Regions from separate parts of the Homo sapiens genome. Here regions 1 and 2 are each linked to region 3. Evidence: fine-mapped expression QTL. A gene starts in region 3. Each other region holds a variant in brackets. All regions are shown on one strand. Distances are between the middles of the regions. Region 1 overlaps KIF15 (kinesin family member 15). Region 2 overlaps KIF15 (kinesin family member 15). Region 3 holds the start of ZNF502 (zinc finger protein 502).

Region 1 (2,765 bases), 68 kb after region 3:
CTCTACTAAAAATACAAAAAAAATAGCTGGATGTGGTAGTGGTCGCCTGTAGTCCCAGCTACTTGGGAGGCTGAGGCAGGAATCACTTGAACCCAGGAGGCAGAGGTTGCAGTGAGCCGAGATTGCACCACTGCACTCCAGCCTGGGTGACAGGGCGAGACTCCGCCTCAAAAAAAAAAAAAAAAAAAAAACCAAAACAAAAAAGAAAGATTTGTCTGTTTTCCACATTTATTCAATTCTTTATATGTTATGGATATGCATTTATTTTATTCTTTAGGTTATAATCCAGTACTAAAAATTATTTACCTTGTTGTTCTTGTTGTTCCAGCTTTGCCCAATGGGCCCTCCTTGAGGTTGGTTTTTGTGTCCCTTTGCTATAGCTCATCCTTTTGTTTTTTGAGCCCCTTCTTACTTTATGATGCTACAAGATGCTCTGGGCTCATCTTGTGTTTTCCCTGACCTACGCCTAGAATCAGCCATTTCACCAATGAACCCTAATTCCTTTTATTGGAGCATGGTATTTAGAAACCAAGATCTGGGCGCTAGGTGTGTTTGGTTTGTTGCTATTGGAATGCCATTGCTTCTAGGCCTTCTCAGCAGACAGAGCTAGGTAATACATGGCAGGGTGGGTATACTGTCTGGTTTACTGAGGACAATACCAATTGTCAAGTAATTATTAGTAGTGTCCTCTTCACTCTCAAGTGCCTGTTTGGACAATAATCTATAGGATTACCCTATTTGTGGCTGGGCACGGTGGCTCACACCTGTAATCCCAGCACTTTGGGGGGCCGAGGTGCGTGGATCACGAGGTCAGGAGTTCAAGACCAGCCTGGCCAAGATGGTGAAACCCCATCTCTACTAAAAATACAAAAAATTAGCCGGGCGTGGTGGCAGATGCCTGTAGTCCCAGCTACTCAGGAGGCTGAGGAAGGAGAATCATTTGAACCCGGAGGGTGGAGGTTGCAGTGAGCCGAGATCGTGCCACTGCACTCCAGCCTGGGTGACAGAGTGAAAAAAAAAAAAAAAAAAAGGATTACCCTATTTGTAGAGGACTCAATAATATCCATTTCTCATTCTGAGTTACTAAAGAATTTTTTTCCCTCTTTTCTTCCAGAAGAAGGGGGTAAAAAACTATAGCATACTGTTTTCTAGTTTTGGGGGGCATTTAATGAAAAAGTAAATCCAAAATTTTCTGTTTTTGCTGTGAATCTAAGCTAAAGTCTTTTGATATCTTGATTAACATCTTTAAAATACAA[CT/C]TTTTTTTTTTTTTTTTTTTTTAAAAGAGATGGAGTCTTGTTATGTTGCCCAGTCCTGGAGTGCAGTGGCTATCCACAGCTGTGATTCTAGTGCACCACAGCCTGGAACTCCTGGGCTCAAGCCATCTTTCTACTTCAGCCTCCTCAGTAGCTGGAACTGCCTGGCTTCAACGTTTTTACTTTTAGTTTTTTGTTACTCTTGTTTCTGTTAAGTGGGATAACAGGAGAGATGACATTGCACAAAAACCTATAGCATAAGAATTTTTTTATTGCTTTATATTTAAATGAAGAGATTTTAGTATCTTTTAAAGACAAAGAATTTAGGAAAGGAAATGCTGTATTACTTGGCATAGCAAAAATTGGAAACAAAAGTTCATTTGATTCTGGTTAAATAAATTATGGTGCTGCAAGATGCTATATGATCCCAAAACCATGGAATACTGTGTAGCTATTAAAAATAATGAGGCAGACCTCTATTGCTGACCTAGGAAGATATCTGAGGTAAAATTAAGGGAAAAATAGGTTGCAAAGCAGTATGAAGAGCATCATCCCAATTTTGGTAAATAAAAATTAAATGAAAACTCTGATGGCTATGTTTGTGTAATATAGAAGCATTTGCCAATTAACAGCAGTTAGCTCTTTGTAGGGAGATTGGAGAGAAAGGAGGCAGATCATTCACTTTTTATCTAATAGAATTTAAAAATAGAAAGAAAATAAGCTAACTTTTTGTGGAGAAAACTTATACACTAGTATTATAATAGGAGGAGTAGTCTTTTAATTTTATGTGTAAAAATAATATGTAAAACATTTTTTACAGTGGACAGACTGGCTCAGGGAAGACATTTACTATGATGGGTAAGTAAAGATTAACTTTTGTTGGCTTAATCTACTCTTTCTGTGATAACAGTAACCTACAACATTTTGGGGAAAGGCATAATTTCTATATATGATGTTGATCTCTTGAAATTAGGGAAATTCCCTAGGCTTCTGCCAAGTTGTGAGTTCTTTGCTAGCAAAGTCCATGTGTTAATCATGTTTGCAGCTATGTTTCCAGCTCAATGCCTGGCACAGAGTGGTGCTGAATAAACAGTTTTTCAGTAGGATTTAATGAATTCGTATATGTTTATACACCTGTATAACCACTAACCAGATCAAGATTCCTGGTCAGTAACTACCAAACCCTGTCCCCTGGAATGCCAATTACTCTGATTTCTGTCATCATTAATATTGCTTGTTTTTGATCCTCTACAAATAATATTTTGTTGTGTATCTTTTGTTTCTGATGTCTTTTAGTGTTAAGTTTCTGCGATTCACTCATGTTGTTGCATGTAGTAGTAGTTTATTTCCATTACTGTATAATATATTATCGTATGAATATACTACACATTTTCCAGTCTACTGTTGATAGACATTTGGATTATTTCAACTTTTCAACCATACGAATAATGTTGCTGTGAACATCTTTCTTGTGTCTTTTCAAATAATTTATGTTGGATATGTATCCAGGA
Region 2 (2,765 bases), 110 kb after region 3:
GCTTTATGAATCTGGGTGCTCCTGTATTGGGTGCATATATATTTAGGATAGTTAGCTCTTTTTGTTGAATTGATCCCTTTATCATTATGTAATGGCCTTCTTTGTCTCTTTTGATCTTTGTTGGTTTAAAGTCTGTTTTATCAGAGACTAGGATTGCAATCGCTGGTTTTTTTTGCTTTCCATTTGCTTGGTAGATCTTCCTCCATCCCTTTATTTTGAACCTATGTGTGTCTCTGCACGTAAGATGGGTCTCCTGAATACAGCACACCAATGGGTCTTGACTATCCAATTTGCCAGTTGGTGTCTTTTAATTGGGGCATTTAGCCCATTTACATTTAAGGTTAATATTGTTATGTGTGAATTTGATCCTGTCATTATGATGTTAGCTGGTTATTTTGCTCGTTAGTTGATGCAGTTTCTTTTTTTTTTCCTTTTTTTTTTTTAAACTTTTATTTATTTTTTATTGATCATTCTTGGGTGTTTCTCACAGAGGGGGATTTGGCAGGGTCACAGGACAATAGTGGAGGGAAGGTCAGCAGATAAACAAGTGAACAAAGGTCTCTGGTTTTCCTAGGCGGAGGACCCTGCGGCCTTCCGCAGTGTTTGTGTCCCTGGGTACTTGAGATTAGGGAGTGGTGATGACTCTTAACGAGCATGCTGCCTTCAAGCATCTGTTTAACAAAGCACATCTTGCACCGCCCTTAATCCATTTAACCCTGAGTGGACACAGCACATGTTTCAGAGAGCACAGGGTTGGGGGTAAGGTCACAGATCAACAAGATCCCAAGGCAGAAGAATTTTTCTTAGTACAGAACAAAATGAAAAGTCTCCCATGTCTACCTCCTACTACACAAACACGGCAACCATCCGATTTCTCACTCTTTTCCCCACCTCTCCCCACTTTCTACTCCACAAAACCGCCATTGTCATCATGGCCCGTTCTCAATGAGCTGCCGGGCACACCTCCCAGACGGGGTGGTGGCCGGGCAGAGGGGCTCCTCACCTCCCAGTAGGGGCGGCCGGGCAGAGGCGCCCCTCACCTCCCGGACGGGGTGGCTGGCCGGGCAGGGGGCTGACCCCCCCACCTCCCTCCCGGACGGGGCGGCTGGCCGGGCGGGGGGGCTGACCCCCCCACCTCCCTCCCGGATGGGGCGGCAGGCCGGGTGGCGGGCTGACCCCCCCCACCTCCCTCCCGGACCGGGCGGCTGGCCGGGCGGGGGGCTGACCCCCCCACCTCCCTCCCGGACGGGGCAGCTGGCCGGGCAGAGGGGCTCCTCACTTCCCAGTAGGGGCGGCTGGGCAGAGGCGCCCCTCACCTCCCGGACGGGGCGGCTGGCCGGGCGGAGGGCTGACCCCCCCACCTCCCTCCTGGACGGGGCGGCTGGCCTGGCGGTGGGTGACCCCCACCTCCTTCCTGGACGGGGTGGCTGCGGGGCGGTGACGCTCCTCACTTCTCAGAC[G/A]GGGCGGCTTCCGGGCGGAGGGGCTCCTCACTTCTCAGACGGGGCGGTCGGGCAGAGACGCTCCTCTCCTCCCAGACGGGGTTGCGGCCGGGTAGAGGCACTCCTCACATCCCAGACGGGGCGGCGGGGCAGAGGCGCTCCCCACATCTCAGACGATGAGTGGCCGGGCAGAGACGCTCCTCACTTCCTAGATGGGATGGCGGCCGGGAAGAGGCGCTCCTCACTTCCTAGATGGGATGGCGGCTGGGAAGAGGCGCTCCTCACTTTCCAGACTGGGCAGCCAGGCAGAGGGGCTCCTCACGTCCCAGATGATGGGCGGCCAGGCAGAGACGCTCCTCACTTCCCAGACAGGGTGGCGGCTGGGCAGAGGCTGCAGTCTCGGCACTTTGGGAGGCCAAGGCAGGCGGCTGGGAGGTGGAGGTTGTAGCGAGCTGAGATCACGCCACTGCACTCCAGCCTGGGCAACATTGAGCATTGAGTGAACCAGACTCCGTCTGCAATCCCGGCACCTCGGGAGGCCGAGGCTGGCGGATCACTCGCGGTTAGGAGCTGGAGACCAGCCCGGCCAACACAGCGAAACCCCGTCTCCACCAAAAAAATACGAAAACCAGTCAGGCGTGGCGGTGCGTGCCTGCAATTGCAGGCACTCGGCAAGCTGAGGCAGGAGAATCAGGCAGGGAGGTTGCAGTGAGCTGAGATGTCAGCAGTACCGATGCAGTTTCTTCCTAGCGTCGATGGTCTTTACAATTTGGCATGTTTTTGCAGTGGCTGGTACTGGTTGTTCCTTTCCATTTTTAGTGCTTTCTTTAGGAGCTCTTGTAAGTCAGGCCTGATGGTGACAAAATCTCTCAGCATTTGCTTGTCTGTAAAGGATTTTATTTCTCCTTCACTTATGAATCTTAGTTTGGCTGGATATGAAATTCTGGGTTGAAAATTCTTTATTTAAGAATGTTGAATATTGCCCCCCACTCTCTTCTGGCTTGTAGAGTTTCTGCTGAGAGATCCGCTGTTAGTCTGATGGGCTTCCCTTTGTGGGTAACCCGACCTTTCACTCTGGCTGCCCTTAACATTTTTTCCTTCATTTCAACCTTGGTGAATCTGACAATTATGTGTCTTGGGGTTGCTCTTCTCGAGGAGTATATTTGTGGTATTCTCTGTTTTTCCTGAATTTGAATGTTGGCCTGCCTTGCTAGGTTGGGGAAGTTCTCCTGGATAATATCCTGAAGAGTGTTTTCCAACTTGGTTCCATTATCCCCATCACTTTCAGGTACACCAATCAAATGTAGATTTGGTCTTTTCACATAG
Region 3 (2,765 bases):
TCCCCGACCCCGCCGCCCAGAATGGAAAATACCTTCATATAATCTCTTTTGGTGGGGGTCAGGTAAATATAATTTAGAAGGAGTTTCTATTTCTCACAGGGAAGCAACATTCATCTCTGGAATGTACACTTTAGGTAATCTGGGGGAAGAAAGATAATTTTCCAGCAGTTTTAGCTCTCAAACAAGCAGTATACATCTATGTGGAGTAACTATTTCCTGTAACTTGTTGGAAGTTGATGGTGACCTAGTCATTCATCAAATACTGATTGAATGCCTAGTATGTCAGCCATGCTCTAGGTGCTAGGGATATAGTATGAATGAAACAGAGAAGGCCCCTGCCTTCATACAGCTTACATTCTACCAAGGGAGATAACAATTGGATAGAGTGAGCCAAAGAAACGGGAATATGCCAGCTACGTGGTACATCCTTTCAGATGTGCAGAGAGCTTGCTTTCTGGATTTAATCTATGGTATCCTCATTTTTCAGTTTATCAAAAATGCCAATAATCTAAATTTCACCTGTTTCTGATTAACGAATTCAACAAGTATTTATTGAATGCCTTCTCTACCAATCATTGTGCTAAACATTGAGATATAATGATAAATAATAGCTCCATATAGCTGATTAGAGTTGTATAAAAATGAACTGATTGGGTCTTTCACAGTTGTCCTTGGGTGGGATGCTACTTGTGTGTATCTTCCTAACAATACCTACGAAAGAAATACAAGTGTATGCATTTAGGGGGGCACTGAATAGAAGGCTAGCTAGAGCTAGAATAACTAATAGTGATATGTGAGTGTAAAGACCCATAAGGGCAACAGTCTAGGTGGTCAAGTGAGAATTGGCATTGGGATTTGAAGAACCAGGATAAATTGGATAGCTGAGGTTAGGGAGAGCAGGTAGAAGGAAGGGAGAGTATTCCAAAGGGAAAATCCTGGGAAAAAGATCTAGAGTCAGGAAGAGGCAAGGGATTTCAGGGGGCCAATGGGAATTCAGTAACTTTAGAGCAGAATGTATATGATAGCCAAATAAGAGATGTTGATATTGAGGTCAGTTTGTGTGGGCCTAGATTGGGAGTTTGTCCTTTATTCTAACATAACAGGGGATCACTCAAGGTTCTTAATAGAGACTATTTTAAGCAGGTAGAATATACTAGTTTCTTGTTGAGATGGCCCATTCCGGCTCCTACCCAGCATCCTTTCCATCCCTAACGTCTCCCTCTACAGTTTTCCTGAGGGTTGAGGTAGCCACTGTGTTTCAGGCCAAGATAGTTGTTAATGGGATATCAGGAACGCGACTGGGCTTGACGGGAAGCAAGGCTGGAGTTACAGGCTGGGCTTGGCGGGAAACAAAGCTGGAGTTACAGGCTGGGTTTGGAGGGAATGCCTTCTTCTAGGGTCCCATAGAGATGTTCCTCCCGCTTCCTAGAGAATCAGAGAATGGATGCGCGAGCTCGCTGCTGACGCACTACCGGCCGCGCCACCATTCTTCCGGTTTCAGAAGTTAAGGCTGGTGTCCTGGCCCCAGTCCACCTCTGGGAGCGCCTGCGCCGCTCCGCGGAGAGTCCGTGGATCTCACAGTGAGCGAGTTGGGACCCAGGGAGGGGAAAAGAGAGGACCCCGGCGAGCCATTGCTGGGGCGGCGGGCTGGAGGGTTATCTGGGAAGTCAGCCCCGGCCTCGGTCCTCTCCACGTTGCTGCCTACGCGTGCTGCCCGGACGTAGGGCACTCCTAGCGGCTCGGCCCGCCCAGCCTGCAGCCTCAGCACTGCAGACTCCAAGGCCCAGCACAGTGCCCGGCACAGAGGAGATGCCTAGGAAAATGGCGGAGTGAATGAATGAATGAGTGAATGAGTGATGGATAGATGATCAAGACAGACCTAGGACCCATGTCAGGAAACGAGGTCCTGGGGATCAGATACCAGTTTCTTCCCCCGGCTGATCCTGTAGCTCCGAAACTTGTTTAGAGCCTGTTTTTATAGGAGACGGCAAATAGCGTAAAGTGCACTCGTTGGGAGTCTTGAGACCTGAGTTACAATTCTGGAGGGTACAGAAATCTCTAAAGTACTGTCTAGAAGTCTGTTCCTTGCTTCTTCACAAAGCTCAGTTGACAGCTTGTATGTGATAGCATGTATGCAAACCTTAATGCCTCCCAATGAAGGATTACTATCCATTATATGCCAAACATTACCCCGAATTTAGTGGCTAGGCTACAAAAGAGTGACATCGGAGACTGCCACATGTAAAGATGCTTCCAGTCTTGTTTAGGACGATAAGGGCATAAGCAGATTTTGGTGGTAATATTTTAAACTACATTTATTTAGCACTTACTGTATACCAGGCACTATTTGAAGCATTTGTGCTAATTGATTTAATCTTCACAACAGCGTATTGCGTGTACAGTTTTGTTTTTTGGTTTTTGGTTTGTTTTTTTTTTTGAGACGGGATTTCACTCTTGTTGCCCAGGCTGGAGTGCAACGGGGTGATCTGGGCTCACCACAACCTCTGCCTCCCGGGTTCAAGCGATTCTCCTGCCTCAGCCTCCCGAGTAGCTGGGATTACAGGCATGCGCCACCACACCTGGCTAATTTTGTATTTTTAGTAGAAACGGGGTTTCACAGTGTTGGTCAGGCTGGTCGCGAACTCCCAACCTCAAGTGATCCACCCGCCTTGGCCTCCCAAAGTTCTGGGATTATAGGCGTGAAACACCGCGCCAGGCCTATGTGTAGTTTTTAAGTGAGGGAACTGAGGTACAGAGAGAACAGA

What was found. PIP is the estimated chance that this variant, and not a neighbour inherited with it, causes the effect.
Region 1: its variant is the best candidate, but not a certain one, in a credible set for the expression of ZNF502 in monocytes (Quach 2016, PIP 0.54).
Region 2: its variant is the best candidate, but not a certain one, in a credible set for the expression of ZNF502 in whole blood (INTERVAL, PIP 0.78).

What each region holds. Positions count from the first base shown.
Region 1 is chr3:44,778,811-44,781,575 of GRCh38, forward strand. It overlaps KIF15 (kinesin family member 15), which reads left to right. Exons shown (of 35, transcript NM_020242.3): 5 at 2,075-2,112. Among named protein-coding and RNA genes, the nearest start is that of KIF15, 18 kb to the left of the region's middle. The variant CT/C (reference allele first, on the strand shown) is at 1,257.
Region 2 is chr3:44,819,908-44,822,672 of GRCh38, forward strand. The region is part of intron 20 of KIF15 (kinesin family member 15); the gene reads left to right. Among named protein-coding and RNA genes, the nearest start is that of MIR564, 41 kb to the right of the region's middle. The variant G/A (reference allele first, on the strand shown) is at 1,461.
Region 3 is chr3:44,711,161-44,713,925 of GRCh38, forward strand. ZNF502 (zinc finger protein 502) reads left to right here and starts at 1,500. Exons shown (of 3, transcript NM_001134442.3): 1 at 1,500-1,580.